3 separate regions of the Homo sapiens genome follow, and all the other regions are reported to be linked to region 2. Evidence: microRNA targets listed by miRTarBase, many of them from high-throughput screens and not tested one by one. Region 2 holds a microRNA gene; each other region holds the end of a gene's coding sequence.

Region 1 (3,000 bases), not on the chromosome of region 2:
TTATAAATCTGAAATGTTCACGTATTAACTGCCCTGTCACATTGCCTGAAAAGCTCTTTACTGTGCTTTTATCCAGCCATGTTTTGTTTTGTTTTCTAAATTTTCCCCCAAGGTCTGTGTACACTGGGCTCAGTAAGTTGTTATGTTGCTGGAATTGAACTACTCCACCAGAAACTAGAGCTCCCTGACAATGTATCCGGTGAATTTGGATGGTCCTTCTGCCTGGCTTGTGTCTCTGCTCCCTTACAGTTCATGGCTTCTGCTCTCTTCATCTGGGCTGCTCACACCAACCGGAAAGAGTACACCTTAATGAAGGCATATCGTGTGGCATGAGCAAGAAACTGCCTGCTTTACAATTGCCATTTTTATTTTTTTAAAATAATACTGATATTTTCCCCACCTCTCAATTGTTTTTAATTTTTATTTGTGGATATACCATTTTATTATGAAAATCTATTTTATTTATACACATTCACCACTAAATACACACTTAATACCACTAAAATTTATGTGGTTTACTTTAAGCGATGCCATCTTTCAAATAAACTAATCTAGGTCTAGACAGAAAGAAATGGATAGAGACTTGACACAAATTTATGAAAGAAAATTGGGAGTAGGAATGTGACCGAAAACAAGTTGTGCTAATGTCTGTTAGACTTTTCAGTAAAACTAAAGTAACTGTATCTGTTCAACTAAAAACTCTATATTAGTTTCTTTGGGAAACCTCTCATCGTCAAAACTTTATGTTCACTTTGCTGTTGTAGATAGCCAGTCAACCAGCAGTATTAGTGCTGTTTTCAAAGATTTAAGCTCTATAAAATTGGGAAATTATCTAAGATCATTTTCCCTAAGCATTGACACATAGCTTCATCTGAGGTGAGATATGGCAGCTGTTTGTATCTGCACTGTGTCTGTCTACAAAAAGTGAAAAATACAGTGTTTACTTGAAATTTTAACTTTGTAACTGCAAGAATTCCAGTTCAGCCGGGCGAGGATTAGTATTATTTTTAACTCTCCGTAAGATTTTCAGTACCACCAAATTGTTTTGGATTTTTTTTCTTTCCTCTTCACATACCAGGGTTATTAAAAGTGTGCTTTCTTTTTACATTATATTACAGTTACAAGGTAAAATTCCTCAACTGCTATTTATTTATTCCAGCCCAGTACTATAAAGAACGTTTCACCATAATGACCCTCCAGAGCTGGGAAACCTACCACAAGATCTAAAGTTCTGGCTGTCCATTAACCTCCAACTATGGTCTTTATTTCTTGTGGTAATATGATGTGCCTTTCCTTGCCTAAATCCCTTCCTGGTGTGTATCAACATTATTTAATGTCTTCTAATTCAGTCATTTTTTTATAAGTATGTCTATAAACATTGAACTTTAAAAAACTTATTTATTTATTCCACTACTGTAGCAATTGACAGATTAAAAAAATGTAACTTCATAATTTCTTACCATAACCTCAATGTCTTTTTTAAAAAATAAAATTAAAAATGAAAAGAGACTCAATTGTATATAGAGTGTCTGAATTGATTTAAATCTCAACACTTTAGGATAAAGAAGTGGAGGCAATCTCTGTGGTTGTCTGTGCAAAGTGCATCTTGCTGTACAGGGCTGTCGTTACATCCTGTGTTTGGGTCTCTTGTTTGATCTTCTGGGAAATGTAGGAACCCCTTCCCCCTATTAGAAATAAGAAAATCTTTATCTTTTATTTTTCAGAATTTTAAACCATGTTCTCAAAAGTAGTTTTGTTATCTCTACATGTCATACTTAATGTGGCTAGTTTTCAGTAAAGTCATTTAGTGGCTGTGGATGTTTGTGTTCTATAGTAAATAACCAAGTCAGCTTCTGACTTAGAACAAAGTCAGCATTACTCTGTAGCCAATTATTGCCTGTGAAATGACTGGTTACTCAGGTTTCTATCTAATCTTAATTCTTGAAGATTCATTACCCTTCAGCGCCTTCTGTGGAAGGTGGAAAAGAGAAAAGCTAAATGAACAAACAAAACACCTTTGGGAATGGGATAAGAAAATTTTTGGCAGCATGACATTTTTGTATTGGTCAGTTATTTTAAACAATGTCCCTGCCTCTTAATACCCCAGAGTTACATGGGAAGCTACTAGCACCATAACCCCTGGTGCTGCATTGTAGTTGGTATTTTTAGCATGTTGCAGGGTAGCTGAGGTTATCTTTCCTGCAAAGACTTTTTTTCTTTGGAATATATAGGGCTGTATTGTTCATTTAAATGTGAAACTGATTCTAATCAGGTTGAACCATATGAAACTGCAGATATTCAGCCATTTTTGATCAACCTAATAGATAAAATCAGTGGCAAGGCGAACCCTATTTAATCTTTGAAAGCAACCCCCAAAGTAAAAAATTAATTTTCAGATTTTTCAGAATGAATTTTTTTTTCTTTTGGGGTGGAGTTTCACTCTTGTTGCCCAGGCTGAGTGCAATGGTGCGATCTTGGCTCATCACAACCTTTGCCTCCTGGGTTCAAGCGATTCTCCTACCTCAGCCTCCCGAGTAGCTGGGATTACAGTCATGCACCACCATGCCCAGCTAATTTTGTATTTTTAGTAGAGATGGGGTTTCCCCATGTCGGCCAGGCTGGCCTTGAACTCTCGACCTCAGGCGATCCGCCCGCCTCGGCCTCTCAAAGTGCTGGGATTACAGGCATGGGCCACCATACCCGGCCTCAGAATGAATTTTGTGGCAGTTTAACAAATGTGTTTTAAGACTTTGATTTTATAGCTCCTAACTAAATGATGTGGGTAAATATCCTCTATGATTTTTAGCAAAAGACTCATTTCAAAATTTATTAAGTATAGCCATAAAACACAATTTGGCACAACAACAACAACAACAAAAAAGGAATTCTAGAATTTATTCAGATAACAGTGTGCCTTCTGTCTGCATCATATTACACTAGGATTTCAAATTTATAATCTAATGGGAATGTGTTAAAATTTTACCTGCTGTAGTTGTGTGT
Region 2 (3,361 bases):
ATCATCAGTTGAGCACTTAGGTGTTTCTGTTTTGTTTCAATCCCTATGCACATGAGTTTGCATTTGGTTCTGCCTGGTACCCCAAGGAATTTACCAGTTGGTACCAGTTTTTCAACTCATTTTGTTGGCTTAAGGATTCCCAGACATATGGCTGGCAGAAGTCCTCACCATATCTTTGTCCTGAACCTTTGGTATCTCACAGGAGACCTCATTCTATCCACTCCCTAAAAATGACAAATTCTCTTATCCCTGGCCATTATAAAATTTTCTGGTTCCCCTTTCCATTCCCAGATCAACTTCTCCTGGATGCACGGTCATGTCTTTTCATCCTGCTTGTACTTGAACTTGACTGTAGACCCTTGGAGCCTCTAGCCAGCACAGCATCCCTTAGATCCCTTAGTGGCAGGTTGCATGAACTAATTCTTTTCATTAACACCTGAGGGTTTTGCCTTTCAGCTGTATGTTTATTTGGGAATTGATTTTGCCTGCTGTTGCATTTTATCCAACACTTCTCAATGTTTGTGGAGGAGAGGGTTCCCTATCAGTGCTTGTTGCTGGGATGGAGCCTTTGAGCTGAATGATGGGTGAACTTGGCATGACATTCTTGGCTCCCAGTTTCTTCCCTCTGAACTTTGTAAACTTGCCTCCATTGCTTTCTGGTGTTAAACCATTGCTGTGGACAAGCCTGGGGACAGCTGCTTTCCCTTGGATGGATGAACTTTTTTTTTTTCCTGCTTAGATTTCCTGATTCTTTCTTTAGTCTTGAACGTTGGTGACTTTACCGGGTTATGACTCAGTCACTATTTTTATTCATTAGTTTTTCTGAATCATAATATGCCTTCTTGATGAGTAGATTTAATCGTTCCTTTGTTTCAAGGATTTATTCATTTTATGAGCACTTTTCTACTCCAGGTGTTGGTTTTTTCTTTGGTGAAATAATCTGTTTTGTTCATTTCATTGTGTACTGGAGGAGAAGAAAGTCTGTCATCTGGCCCCTTGCTGCCATCTGTCTGCACGTCAGTCTGTTGTCATTTGCACTGTGCATTTGTCTATTTAAAACAATCCTACCCAGATGCCCCCTCCTCAGTGTCACCTTCCACCCTGGCAGGATGCCTTATGGCAATGCCACTTCTGAGATGGTCGTGGGAGTCAGCACCACTGGCCAGGTATGTGAATTTTCTGCTAACAATGGAAGAGTTTGAAAAACCATATATGAAGTACCATTAACCCCAAGCATGCAATCTATCCTTAGGAAGACTTCCTGGAAATTATGCTCACCTTTGGGGATGAGGCCATGATTCTGAGGTCAGTGCCATGCCATGGTCTAATAAAGTTTGCATTCAATGCTGTTTGTTTCTGTATGATCAATATTGTAAAGTCAGTCTCTTTGTCATGGACTCAGCTTTGGAGGGTTCCTGGACACAAGGCCTGTGTAAGGAAAGGATCATTACTGTCAGCCTCGATGCTAATGTGAGATGAGGGAATGTGCCCTGCTCTGATCCAAATGCTGAGTTTCTGTGCACTTGGCCTCTCCACCATCAGGTTCCCTGGCAGTGCTCCTTTAGACATGCACCCACCTTGGCAAAGGCATTGAGGTCTGGATGGCTGCAGGGTCCGGGATGGAATGGTTGAATACAGGGCGTGTGCTTTCTTCTCAACCCTCTTGCAGTCCGTCTGCTAACCGTCAATGTTCACTGTCTCCTAGGGGGACTTCCTGGAGGAGGCCAACTTTGGAGAACAGGCATTGACATTGGGTCTGCGCTAGCGTGTGGTACTTGAAGATAGGTTATCCGTGTTGCCTTCGCTTTATTTGTGACGAATCATACACGGTTGACCTATTTTTCAGTACCAAATCCCGCCTTGGAGGGCTTCCTGGAGCGGAGTCTTACTTCAGGGTGTCAGCTCCTCTCCAGGGTAAGGAAGGGGACCATTGACCATAGCCGACCCAGCAGTGTGCCCTGGCCCTAACCCTGTGTGTGCCCCGTCCTTGGGGAGGTTTCTAGAGATGGTGCCACCTTTGGGGAAGAAGTGGAGCTTTTCCTATCAGAGCTACTCTGTGGTACTGGTGGAGAGGTCTTCCATGATGCATTCGATTTATTTTTTGACCAATCCTACATAGTGGACTCTTTTGAAAGCATTAAATCTAGCCTTAAAGCACCCTCGGGTGGTGCCGAGTTTAGGAACTAGAACTGGTGTCTGAATGCCTGAACGCACGGCGAAGCTGACAGTGTGCACACTCTTCTTGGTGGGTCGTGCACCTGCAGGCGTCCTGCTTGCTTACCATGGCAGTTTCCTCGAAAGAGGCGGCAGTTCCCTCATCGGCTCACTGCATGTTTGACAAGACACCGTCTTGCTGTCTTCCCTGCTGCCCTCTCTTCATGTATCACAGATGGTGCTCTGCAGACCTCTCTGCTGTGGCACTTCCCTCCCTGAATGGCTTCCTGCAAGAGGTGCTAATTGCAAGTAAGGGATGGAGTGCGGCCCGGACCGCAGAGCTTATTTCGTGGGTGGTGTGTTGCCACCTTCCTGACTCTCAGTATCCCGTCCGTCCTCAGGCCTGCTGCTGGGACGCGCTGGAAGCGAGCACCCAAGTCAGGTACTCGAATGGAGGTTGTCCATGGTGTGTTCATTTTATTTATGATGAGTATTACATGGCCAATCTCCTTTCGGTACTCAATTCTTCTTGGGAAACGTCACGAGGGGAAAGCCCAGCCGGCACCTGCGCAGGGTAAGGAAGTGGATCACCTCCGCATGACAGGTGCTCTCTGTGTGACTTACATCACTTGGCTCATATCCCGGCCATCATTAGGAGGAATTCCCCGAAATGATGCTGACGTTTTAGTTGACATGGTGGTCTTCTAGTCGCATCCTTGAAGACTCGTCAGTGAATAAACCACATTTAGTCAACCTTTTTAGGTGTGAAATCATCTTGGCTGTGTGGCACACTTTAGGGAAAGGAACTCCTGGCTGAATGGAAGACATCCACATTACGCCCTCAAATACCTTATCTTCTGGGTGACCTCTGGGAAGCAAGGGGTGAAGGGGGTTTCCTCAGCAGTGAGAATTAATGTTGTTTAAAGACACATTTCCATGGCACGACTCGGTTATTCCTACTGCAAGACGAGAATTGTTAATAGCATTTATTACTACCTTATGTTGCCAGCTGTGTGCCCTTGGAAAATCCCTTCACCTATCAGCTCTCTGGGCCTCAGTCTCTTCCTCTGTAAAGCAGGGTTAACAGCGGAGTGGAAACGTGCTCTTTGTGAAGTGTCTAGACAGCGTCTGGCACGTGGCTGTAGGATAAGCATTGTTTCTGAGGATGGTCATTATATGAATGTTATGTCATCTGCACTCATTGTCC
Region 3 (3,361 bases), not on the chromosome of region 2:
ATCCTTTTTATATTCATCCTGGATGCCACCTCTTTACTGCCTCTTCACCTTTTCCTCCTTCTCATTTCTATTCTTCCTTTTATCTGTTTATCTAGCATACAACTGATACTTCTCTCTTGTTATATTGTGTCTTTTTACATTCAAAGACTATAAAGTCTATAATTAATGTACATGATTTTGGCCATATTAGAAGTTTGATGTTACTATAATGTGACTGGTTTCAATAAGCTACACATTAGAAGCCATCCTTTTTTATCCTGAGCTTACACTTACAGACTGATAAATGGGATGTGCTCAGTTATAATTAGAAGAGTGTAAAGATATCAGTAATGTTTAATTTTATTTCTTTCCTACACAGAAGTTGTAAGAACAAGACTACGTGAAGAGGGAACAAAATACAGATCTTTTTTTCAGACTCTATCTTTGCTTGTTCAAGAAGAAGGTTATGGGTCTCTTTATCGTGGTCTGACAACTCATCTAGTGAGACAGATTCCAAACACAGCCATTATGATGGCCACCTATGAATTGGTGGTTTACCTACTCAATGGATAGCAGCACGAGGACTGCTGTACTGCAAAAAAAGAAGACCAAAAGATTACAGTGGACCATGGGATACAGAAGCCAGCATGGCAGACAGAAGAAAAATAGTTTGGGAACATGTAACTATTCTAAGTGGAAGTTTTGTTGTAGGAATTATAGTAATCACACCACATTACTTGGCCTTTCGGTAATGTGAAAAAAAAAAAAAACCTCAGAGCCTCCAAGGAAATGCCTTTAGAAGCACTCCTCTCTCAAAATTGCCATTTTCTCTACCATGTCCCCCAGACACAGTTGGGTTTTGTTGATTTATGGCAGTCTTCTAAACAAAGCCATCCTTAATTTTACATACTGTATTGTAACTATCCAAAGATAGTATTGGCAGTCATAAATTTATAACTTCTGGCCTTTGTTTAATTCCAGTAAAATAACAGCAATGACAATGAGATCGTCAGTATTATTTTCACATTTCCCTGAGAGGACCTGGCACAATATTTTAAATTTAATTATTTGGCAGTAGTCACTGTTTTTGACAACCAATGAAATAGCGTCTAAATATCTTGTATATTTTTTAGCATCAAAATGTTTTGGTTTCCACTGCTGACAGGTGCTTGTTGTTTAGCCTAATGTGGATATTTAAATTGTTAACATACCAAACACACATGGTAATAGTTTGGGACAAAATAACTAGTAAAATGTTGATTTCTCGGCTTTTTCACTGACTGCGGCATGTCCTCGTGTCTTCTCTGATTTTGTGGTACATGAATGAATGCATTTATCTTTTTAGTGACTTACTAGTTACGAACTTGAATTATCACCTCTTTGTCATACTTAAGTATCATTTACATAAAGTGTAAAAGATTTTTTCACTTTTGAATCTTTACCTACTTGCTTTCACATTAAGAATTTGAACTTTTGAGTTTTTTCCAGGTCTATATATAATAGATTACATTTATTTTGTAAAGAAAATAGTAATTTAAAGTTTTGCCATTTTAAGGTGACAATATTTGGGACAGTATAAATATTATAGACAAGGGCCCCCTTGCTGTCTGCTTTAGCAGGTAGTGACATTAATTGACTTATAGTTTTGTGTAAATGAACAAACTGCTTTTGACAAGAAATTTATTCTGTCCTAGTTTCCTGCGTGGTAAATCATAGAAAGATTCAAGTTCATTTGGGTTAAATGTGCTAATAGGATGTAGCTTTTAAATTCTGCTATTGAGTCAGCTGTACCTTTTAATACTTTAAATGTGTTATTTGTATGGCCCTTATAAAGGTGTTTGCTGTAATTCTGTTAAAAGACTTCGCCTATGCCATACTGGTGTATAAAAACTGCCGCAATTGGACGCCGGTGTGGTACTCATTTCAGTATACCTGAACTGTACATTTTGTGCAATGGCTTTATCTAAAAGAATGACGCTTCGTGAAAGCACTTTGTGGCCTTTTTTGGGGGGGAGGGTGAGAGAGTAGGAGAGAATACCATGTTAAGATTAAAAAAAAAAACAAAAACATTGGTCACGTATTAGGCAGAAACAGTGTTCATAACATTTTTCTGGGTTTTAAATATGTTGTTTCGGATATCCTTAATATAAATGTTTTAGGTATTCTGTGTACCCTGTCGTACCCCCAACATTATAGAATATTGCAGCGTGTCATTGCAAGCTTTCTCTGCTGTCACCAGTGAAACATAGTGCCCTGTTAAATTCCCCCACTTTAACTTCCTTGTGATCAACAGTAACTGGATGTTTTTGAGGTGCTCAATTGGAATAAAAATATTCCAATCTATTTGGAGACCAAAGGCAAAATCAGTTTTCTTACCTTTGGAATTATTCGTACCTTTTATGGTAAATTTCAGCTTTGACATGTATTATGAGGAACGTACCAAAAACCGGTTTGTAACAAATCTGTAGAGAAGGTCTGAATCTATCGTGTTTGCCTTTTCAGGTGCCATTTCTACTGCCTAATACAGTGCCATTTGCCTTGTGAAGACCCATAAACATTCATTGTGTTGAATGTAAGATAGAGACTCTCCCTAGTCTTACTGATCTCAGTACCCCACAAATGATTAAGAATGATATGAAAACCAGCAGCTAAGGAACATCTTATTATTTAGTTGTAGCATATTCATAACAAGTGTCCTTCAAGGATAAACATATATTCTCTATTTGTATTTAGCAAGTAAAACTTGTGTTGACCTTTAGTGCATTATATTCAGCTTTTAACAGTATTATGTATGTACTGGAAAGCAAAGAAATCTTAGAGTCTTGGACATTGTTTATTTGTGCAACAACTAGAAAGGAGCAATGAAGTTTATTTCAGTTGTATTTTTCCCTAAGCACAATCTGCAATAGTTTATGTATGACAGAGATAATTCAAAAAGGAAAACTATATATAAAAGTTGTATATAAAGTTTGTCTCTGAAATATTTCTTTGAAGTTTTTAAAAAATCGACTCATGTTTAAAAACAAAAACACATATTCAGAGCATTGGACTTTTTTAACTTGTTTTCATCTGTTTATCATGACTTTTTTATTTCTGGTGTAGAGTCCACATTATTTAGTTTGTTGTACTTTTAAATTTCAAAGTTCAAATCTGAAGAATTAGCGTTTGTGATTTCGGGATACCATGCAGTGGTTTTAATCCCAGGAAAAAAACTATCACCAAAAGTTCGTTTGATTCTCATTATGTAACTTTGTAGAACCATCCTTTCTAGATGGGTCCACCACAGTGAATTTGTAACTTTGAAGTCAGGATAGAATATCATTAGATTATCTGTGAGATAGCATTACTATGTTAGGACCAGCAGAGTTTGGGTTGGTAAAAA

The links. The annotated mature microRNA hsa-miR-154-5p reads UAGGUUAUCCGUGUUGCCUUCG and lies in region 2 at 1,783-1,804, shown strand. An mRNA with a match to its seed (bases 2 to 7 or 8) in the 3' UTR can be bound and repressed. Matches are read on the target gene's strand: a 7mer-m8 pairs with bases 2 to 8, a 7mer-A1 pairs with bases 2 to 7 and ends in A, and an 8mer does both.
Region 1: the mRNA of CLDND1 is a reported target of hsa-miR-154-5p. Seed matches in the 3' UTR shown: 7mer-m8 at 1,462-1,468.
Region 3: miRTarBase lists SLC25A36 as a target of hsa-miR-154-5p. The part of its 3' UTR that is shown has no 7-base or 8-base seed match.

Annotation. Positions count from the first base shown.
Region 1 is chr3:98,513,992-98,516,991 of GRCh38, reverse strand. CLDND1 (claudin domain containing 1) reads left to right here. Exons shown (of 5, transcript NM_001040181.2): 5 at 113-1,509. The coding sequence ends at 333. Among named protein-coding and RNA genes, the nearest start is that of CLDND1-AS1, 7.1 kb to the left of the region's middle.
Region 2 is chr14:101,057,987-101,061,347 of GRCh38, forward strand. MIR154 (microRNA 154) reads left to right here and starts at 1,769; the gene lies at 1,769-1,852. MIR496 (microRNA 496) reads left to right here and starts at 2,587; the gene lies at 2,587-2,688.
Region 3 is chr3:140,975,902-140,979,262 of GRCh38, forward strand. It overlaps SLC25A36 (solute carrier family 25 member 36), which reads left to right. Exons shown (of 7, transcript NM_001104647.3): 7 at 359-3,361. The coding sequence ends at 552. Among named protein-coding and RNA genes, the nearest start is that of SLC25A36, 36 kb to the left of the region's middle.